2 linked regions of the Homo sapiens genome follow. The protein of the gene in region 1 purifies or fractionates together with the protein of each later gene. This does not show direct contact. Each region holds a gene or a part of one and is shown on either strand. Other genes may lie near its edges.

Evidence for each region.
Region 2: the proteins of DEFB114 (region 1) and CRYBG1 purify together in Homo sapiens (affinity purification with mass spectrometry; one large-scale study listed by BioGRID and IntAct). This does not show direct contact.

The regions. Positions count from the first base shown.
Region 1 is NC_000006.12:49,961,322-49,965,917, reverse strand, and holds the start of DEFB114 (beta-defensin 114 precursor), read left to right. Parts: upstream 1-1,753; 5' UTR 1,754-1,812; coding exon 1,813-1,867; intron 1,868-4,596. UniProt on the Homo sapiens protein: Has a salt-sensitive antimicrobial activity against Gram-negative bacteria, including E.coli, Gram-positive, including S.aureus, and fungi, including C.albicans.
Region 2 is NC_000006.12:106,569,285-106,572,517, reverse strand, and holds the end of CRYBG1 (beta/gamma crystallin domain-containing protein 1), read right to left. Parts: 3' UTR 523-3,233; downstream 1-522. Other genes in the region: RTN4IP1 (NAD(P)H oxidoreductase RTN4IP1, mitochondrial isoform 1 precursor), read left to right, coding at 415-522. UniProt on the Homo sapiens protein: May function as suppressor of malignant melanoma. It may exert its effects through interactions with the cytoskeleton.

The sequences.
Region 1 (4,596 bases):
TTGGGAGACTGAATCAGAAAACCAATGTCCTAATGACATCAAGAGAGAAAAAATTAAAACATTTAAAAGGAGCTATCCAGGCATTAGAGTTTTCATCAGGAAGACTGGATGCCGGATGTTAGTAGAGTAACAGCTTCAAAGTTGTGAAGGAACATGATTTTGAACCTAGATTTAACATCCAAATAACTAAATGTGAGGGCAGAATAAAAATATTTTTTAGAAACAAAATTCTAATTTAAAAAAATCTTTTCTGAAAACAATTCTGGAGGGAGAAAAACAAGAACAACAACAAAAAAAGACACAAGATCCAGATCACGGTAAATTAAACTCAGGAGGGCAGGTTTAGAAAAATCTTAGAATGAAGCAATCTCAGGACTCACCTATGCTACTCAGATAAACTTGACGATAGAGAATGCCTATTATTTATATTTTGTCCACATATACAAAGAAAACTGCAGGAAGAAATACTCTTCAATAATGACATAACCAAATATAAAACAAAATAAAAACACAAAAAAACACTTAAGAAAAAAGAAAGCAGAAAGAAGAAAAGAAAGATATAAAATAAATTATTGGTAATAATGTTAATAATAATGTCAATTTGACTTTGAAACCAAGAGCATTTCTCTTTGATTAACCCAAGTGTTGTGATATTGGGCACATAGAAAAAGGCAATATAATTGATAATACTTATTGTACTACAGTCTAAAAATAAAGTGTATGTTTTAATTCTAATTATACATAGAGTACACATATTATCTTACACAAGATGAAAGGAAATGTGTAACAAATGAATGAGGTGTAAAAAGTGGGGAGAATTGCTGGAGTAACTAGCAAGAGGGCTAATATTTTCATTTTAAGTGAGGAAGGCTTAATATTGCAACTACAGTTGATAGGAAAAATATAAGTGTTTTATTGAAGATTATAACATTTTTAAAAAATTAACATAACTTCAAAATATTTGATAAAGATAGCCTAGAAAAGAGTGTAAGTAATCTAAATTTGTAATTTTCTTAGTAGAAACCAAGAGATGTACTCTGTTTGGTAAGCCAAGATAAGATATAAACTACATCCTTGTTCTTATGTTAGTAATCACTAGAGGGCCTAGTGGGTAGGAAATTATTGCTATTCATTACAGTCTCTTCTCATTATTTATTGTGTCCATGTAATTAAATATTTAAATGTTAAAAAAAGTGGAGAATTATTGAGCTTTACTAGGAAAACAAGAGTTTTGTGAATATTTAAGTTCCATCTCAAAAATGTAACAGAAATTAGTGATAAAAGTGAGGCTTAATATTTGGGTCTTGTAAATGAATAATTTGGGGGAAATTAATGGGATAACATGATATAATTAAAATTTTTTGATATGCAGGCATATTGATGAATTGACACACCAGATTAGTGATTACAGTAAATTTTGAAAAGTAATCAGCAGATTAATGGACAATGTTCAGCTGTTTTATTTCTGAAGTAGTAAATAAGTATTTACCTTAAATTTATTCCATGGATGCCCCTTTGCATTGATCATTAATTAATTAGCAATGATAGGAAGATGCCATGTTTACAGCTATCATTCACAGAGGGATTCCTTCCAAAAGCTCTATTATTTTCAAGTGTTTTCAATTTGGGTAATTCTGCCCACAGCCATAGTCATTGGAGCAGAGATAGGCACACAAAATTAAAACAATTTCCAGATAACGAGAGTTTCTCTTCCATGAGAAAACTATAAATAGTAAACGTCTTTTGGGTTTTGGAAAGTTCTATAGTCTCTATATTCTGTTATCAAGTCTTTCAACAACTTCTTTCTACAGAATGAGGATCTTTTACTATCTCCATTTTCTGTGTTATGTGACCTTCATTCTACCAGGTAAGATAGATGTCTCTGTTATATTTGTGTAAAACTTCTCACTAGAAATAGAAATAATAAATTATTAATTGTAGAATGCAAATTTTTAATGCAATCTTATCAATTAAATAAGTGTCTTTATTATACTGAATCTTGGTTTCCTCATTGATAATATCATTATACTGGTGTACTGTACCCACCTCATTCTCCAAATATGTAGATAAAATGAGATAATGAAGACAACATCTTTCAATTTTTTTGGACTGAGTTTTCTTCTAGATATTTAAATTGTTCAGAAAACTATAATATATTAAATTTATTTATAAGTCTCAGAAGTGAAAGCTTGAAAGTAATTAGACCCTAGAGAAACTGAATGAACTGAGAACAGCAGTGTATATTTCTTGGAATATCAATAACAGAATCTATAAGATGATCAAATGGATATTAGAAAATATTTTGAACTGAATAGTAATAAAAATGAGATAAATCAAAGTTCATAGTAGGGTTTACAAGGAAATTAATATAGTTATATCCATATATCTAAAAAGAATTAAAACTAAAAATGTAACTAAAATTTTAACTGATGAAGTTAAAAAAGAAAATCAAATTAAAATGACAGTTACAAACATGTAATAAGACTTAATTAGATGTAAGTAGAAAACAGACACTAGAGAAAATAAAGAAGGCCACATTTTGTTTTTTGAAAAGACTAACAAAATTAATAAAGCTTTGACAAAACTGTAAAGAAAAAGTGAAGGCAAAACTAAACTTTATCAGAGATATTAGTATATATGCTACAGATATCAAAAAGATCATGGGAGAATATTGTGAACAAGAAACTTTTTGCATCTGTATTAATGAGTAATTTTCTTTCTTGTAATGTCCTGATCAGTTTTAGTACCAGGTATTGTTGATCTCATAAAATAAGTTAGAAACATCCTTTTATTTTCTATTATCTGGAAAAGTTTGTGTATAATTGGTGTTATTTCTTCTTTAAATGTTTAGAATTCAACAGTGAACCTATCTGGGCTGGGTATTTTCCCTATAGAAGCTTAATTATTATGGATTCTATTCCCTTAATGAATTTGGAAACATTTAGATTTTCTATTTCTTTTTGTTGTTGTTCAGATTCATTATGATGTAATTTTTTCAGAAATTATCTAATACATATAAATTTTTGAATAAATCAATGGAGAATAGAGAACCCAGAAACAGATAAAGATGGCACTACAGAACAACGTAATAAATAAGCTTTTCAATAAATAGGGCTGGTTCCATTGCATAGCCATATGAAGAAAAAATGAAGCTTGACTATTGCCTCTTACCACATCCAAAATCTCATTCCAAATAACCTGAGATGCAAGCATGGAAAAAGGCAAAACAATAAAGCATGCAAGTTAATGTAAAAGAATTTACTAACAATTTTAACATACAAGTAGTAGTATTTCTTAATCAGTAGAAAAAATAGTATTGACTACATTAAAATTTGGAAACTTTTGTCAGTCAAAAAACACCAACTAAAAAAAGCAAGCTCTATATGGAGAAAAATATGTTCAATACATTTAGCATATAAAAGGAACACAACTAGAATATATAAAGAACATACATAAAACAGTATAAAAAAGACAGACTGTCCAATAGAAAACCAAAGATGGATCACTTTCTAAATGATAGATATTTATTAGGTCAGTAAACATAAGAAAATATGTTACCCTTTTTCAGTAATCAGAAAAATTGGCATTTTATTATGAAATATAAAATGGGTTAAGATATATGAGGTGTCTACATTCACATCATAATTACTAAATTGAAAATATCAAGCATTTCTTAGATTTTAGATGTCTGAAACTATTATTCAATGCTTCTGGAAGTTTAAGTTAGCACCAATTATTTGAACATCTGTTTGGCATTATCTATTAATGTTGAAGCTATGTAGACACCTTACCATTGTATTTCACCCTTAGGGATATGCCCAACAAAAATGCCTGAGCATGTGCCCCAAGAGTCAAGTACAAAAGTATTCAAAAATGGGAAACAACCTGAATATTCATCAGCAGATAAGGCTAAAATGTCGTATATGTATGTAACAGTCCACTATATGATAATGAACATGGAAGAATTATAGTTATACAAAACAAGAACAAATCTCAAAATACAATATTGTGAGTGAATAAAATCAGATGTAAAAATATATGTGCTGTACTGTTGCATTCACATAAAGCTTTAAAATGAGCAGGCTTAAACAAAATATAAATCAAGACAATTTTTTTTTAACTGAAAGAGTGAAAGGAATAGTAACTGTAAGGGGGCACAAGTGTGCCGGAAATGTTCTATTTCTTGACTTGGGTAGTGTTTACATAGGTCCTTAATGTTTAATAACACTCTTAGCTGAGCATTTATTTTTGGGTACTCTTCTGCAAGTTTGTTTTATTTTCTTTTTAAAGTTCATACATAAAGAAATAAAATACAATAAAGCATCTGCTGTTTCTATTACACACTTTTGTAATCTAAGCTGTTTCTGTTTCAAAAATCCATAGCTATATTCATAAAATGCAATTGATAGCTGAAAGAGATCTAGAGTTTGTGAGTTTAGCATATAACAACATTAAGCATACAGTGAAAATCATTTAAAGAGGTGAAGAAATTATTTTAATAAATAGTGTGGAATAATTATTTAATCATTTAAAAGAAATGAAGTTAGCTACATATCTGACAAGTACAGTTGATATAAAGAGAAAAATACTATAATA
Region 2 (3,233 bases), about 57 Mb from region 1:
GGGCTTACTGACTCGTACCAGCAGAGGCATAAACATACCACGTGGAGAAAATGGCAGGTAGAGCGTTTTTGCAAAGCATGGAATCTGGATGAGGGCTGAGCTCAGGATGCTATTGGTCTTCGAATGCCGGAGTGGGAGCTGTTGAACGGTTCTAAGTAGGAGAGTGAAAGACCAGCATGGAGGAGAAGTAAGACTGGGCAGTGGGGTGGGAGGGGCCATAAAGAGAGAAGCAGCAGTGAGGCAGGAGTGGAGGCAGCATCATGGCCCTTGTGAGAGCCTGACCTGGGTCCACTGGAGAGACACTTGAGAGAGACTGTGGCTTGAGGGACACCGTCAAGAAACTAATTAGCAATGTCATCTGCCTTGAAAGATGTAGGCTTTTTTATCCACCGGTCAACCTCTTATGTTTTACAGATCCGGCCAGTTATTGAACAAACCTTTCCTTTTTCTAAAGTTCCAGAAGCCTTCCTGAAGGTGGAAAGAGGACACGCACGAGGAAAGACTGTAATTAATGTTGTTTAAATAAAAATGCAGTTTAGTGATTGTTGACGTTCTTATTTGGTGAGTGCCTGTGAGCCCAAATTTTTTTCTAGCCATCCCTTTCAAACATTTTTCCAGATTAGATTATACATTCCATGATACAAGCTTTAAAAAATAAACACACCATTTTGGCCAGTAATTGATATAAAAATATCAGCACTTGGATTTGTCTGTAGTCAGTAGAAATTCGAAGTTTTTTCAAGCTGTTCCTTCACACTGGCTTTGCAGGTTGTTGTGGCACCTTCTGTTTTACTAGCTTAAACTACTTTATTGTCTTTTTTGTTTTAGAGACAGGGTCTCGCTGTGTCACCCAGGCTGGAGTGCAGTGGCACAATCACAGCTCACTGCAGCCTTGACCTTAAGCGATTCTCCTGCTTCAGCCTCTCAAGTAGGTAGGACTACAGGTATGCATCACCACACCCAGCTAGTTTTTTTGTATTTTTAGTAGAGACAGTTTTGCCATGTTGCCCAGGCTGGTCTCAAACTCCTGGGCTTAAGTGATCCACCATGTCAGTCTCCCAAAGTTCTGGGATTACAGGCGTGAACCACCCTGCTGGGCCTGATCGTCTTAATGTACAATACTAAAACTTTCAGTGTATAGATGGATGTTGGCATGAAGAGATAATTTAAAGCTGGTTCCTTCTTGAATTCATCACTGAGCAGCTTTCTAACTGCCAAGGTTTCCTTTTTTGTTCCTCCACCATAATGTGGTCACCACAGCTCTTAAAGTTCTAAATCTCTTAGTGTCATATATAAAAATCTGCCTGGTGATTCATTTGTTTATGCTCTTAATATTGAAAGGTGAGAGCAGAGTTTCTAACTTTTTAAAACCCTTACATCTTGCATAAGGATTAGGCCTGTTTCGGCAATTGAAACATGCTTCTCTGAGGGCTTTTCCATGGAAATTGCAGCCTTCCAATGGAGCCCAAAGCTTGCCACTTTGATGTCAAATGTTTACATTTAGATATCTCTCCAATCAACCCATTGCAGTGTGCACTTCGAATATTCATTTACGGTAAGTGTTTTTACTTCCTAATATACTCATCCTCAGTATTGCACCTGATATGCTTGCTTGTAACTTTTGATGTAGACCTGTTTTGAGATTTCTGCTTGGTTTATTCCTGTTAGACACTCGTTTGGTAGCATGTATGTTAGATGTAGGCTTTTCTCTAAAATTGTTGGTCTGGTCTTACTACCGAGTTATTGCAAAAGAAAAAAAAATCTGATTTTCCAGGTGTAAATACCAGCTGCTCTTGACTTCCATCTGGAGCAGCCTCAGCTCTTTTCCTGGAGGGCTCCCAGGTGGTAGTGGGAGTAAAATACTTGAGCCAGGACCTCACTCATCCTCGTTTCCACTCAGAAACTATGGAGTTTGGAAAGAGAGTGGTCAGCAAATCTTTCTTGCTATTATACCAGCACCCCTCAAACCTGCTTCATCCTAATCAGACATTTGTTTCTAATCTGCTAGCTGACTCTCTTTGAAGGGTGAGATGAGGGCTACTGAATGGACTCTCAGATTTCATCAACATAGTTAACCAGAAGCAAGTTTATTTAAGAGATCAGTTCAGCACAGGCTACTGTAGAATGTCTTACCCCACCATATTGTAATGGTATGCACAAAAGGCCTAAAATCAGAGCTATATATCTAGGAACAAGACAGATATGTTGGATGCTGTTGTACATGCACCAATAATATTTTAAAACAAGACAAACTATTCCAGTGACCATAATTGCCTACCATAGACTCCAGAGAAGATCAGCATTTTAGAATTAGAAACACACTTGAATAGATGGAAAAGAAACAAGCTGTTCTACCTGTGACAAGAGCACCAGTATTGAGTGATGAGGACAAAAAGAGGAAGAATATATTCAAGGAAATGTTTAGCACTTTTGTTCAAAGCTAGAACCCACTGTTGGAAGAGCAGCGTATGGGCTGGTGTCTTGTCAGTTGTTAAGCAGTTTGTTTGCATTTTGAAATGCTTACTGCAGTTGAGGATTCCAAGATTGCTTGAAGATTGATTTGACTCCGGTCAAATCAAGACTTGACCAGCAACATCCCTAAAGGTCTCTTTTCCTTCACTTTCTGGGGATAATTAATTGCTGGTCATCCTCTTGAGCCTTTCACACCTCGTTTAGTGGCTATAGTGCCCCCAAGACCTGAGGCTGTCCACCAACAGCTATACCCTGAAGCATGGCTGCAGAACACTGCAGGGAAGGCAGCCCCATGCAGGCCATGTGTGGATGCAGGTGGATAGGAGGACAAGAAATTAGGCTAAAAAATCTGAGTTTAGCAAAAAAGTATGTAACATTGCTTCAGCACTTGTAGATGAGTAAGGATGGCTCATAAATTAGGTCATAATAGTGTTCCAGTAGCAGCTATAAGAAAGGCATTAAACAACCCTCATTTGTGACATTCTAGGGCAGCCCATGGATGAGTTAAAATAATTCAAATCCTGGCTGGGCGCAGTGGCTCAGGCCTGTAATCCCAGCATTTTGGGAGGCCGAGGCGAGTGAATTGCTTGAGCCCAGAGGTTCGAGATCAGCCTGGGCAACGTGATGAAACCCCATCTCTACAAAAAAAAAACAAAATTTGGCTGGGCTTGGTGATGTGTGCCTATAGTCCCAGCTACTTGGGAGGCTGAGGTGGGAGGATCACCTGAGCCTGGGGAGGTAGAGGCTGCAGTGAGCCGTGA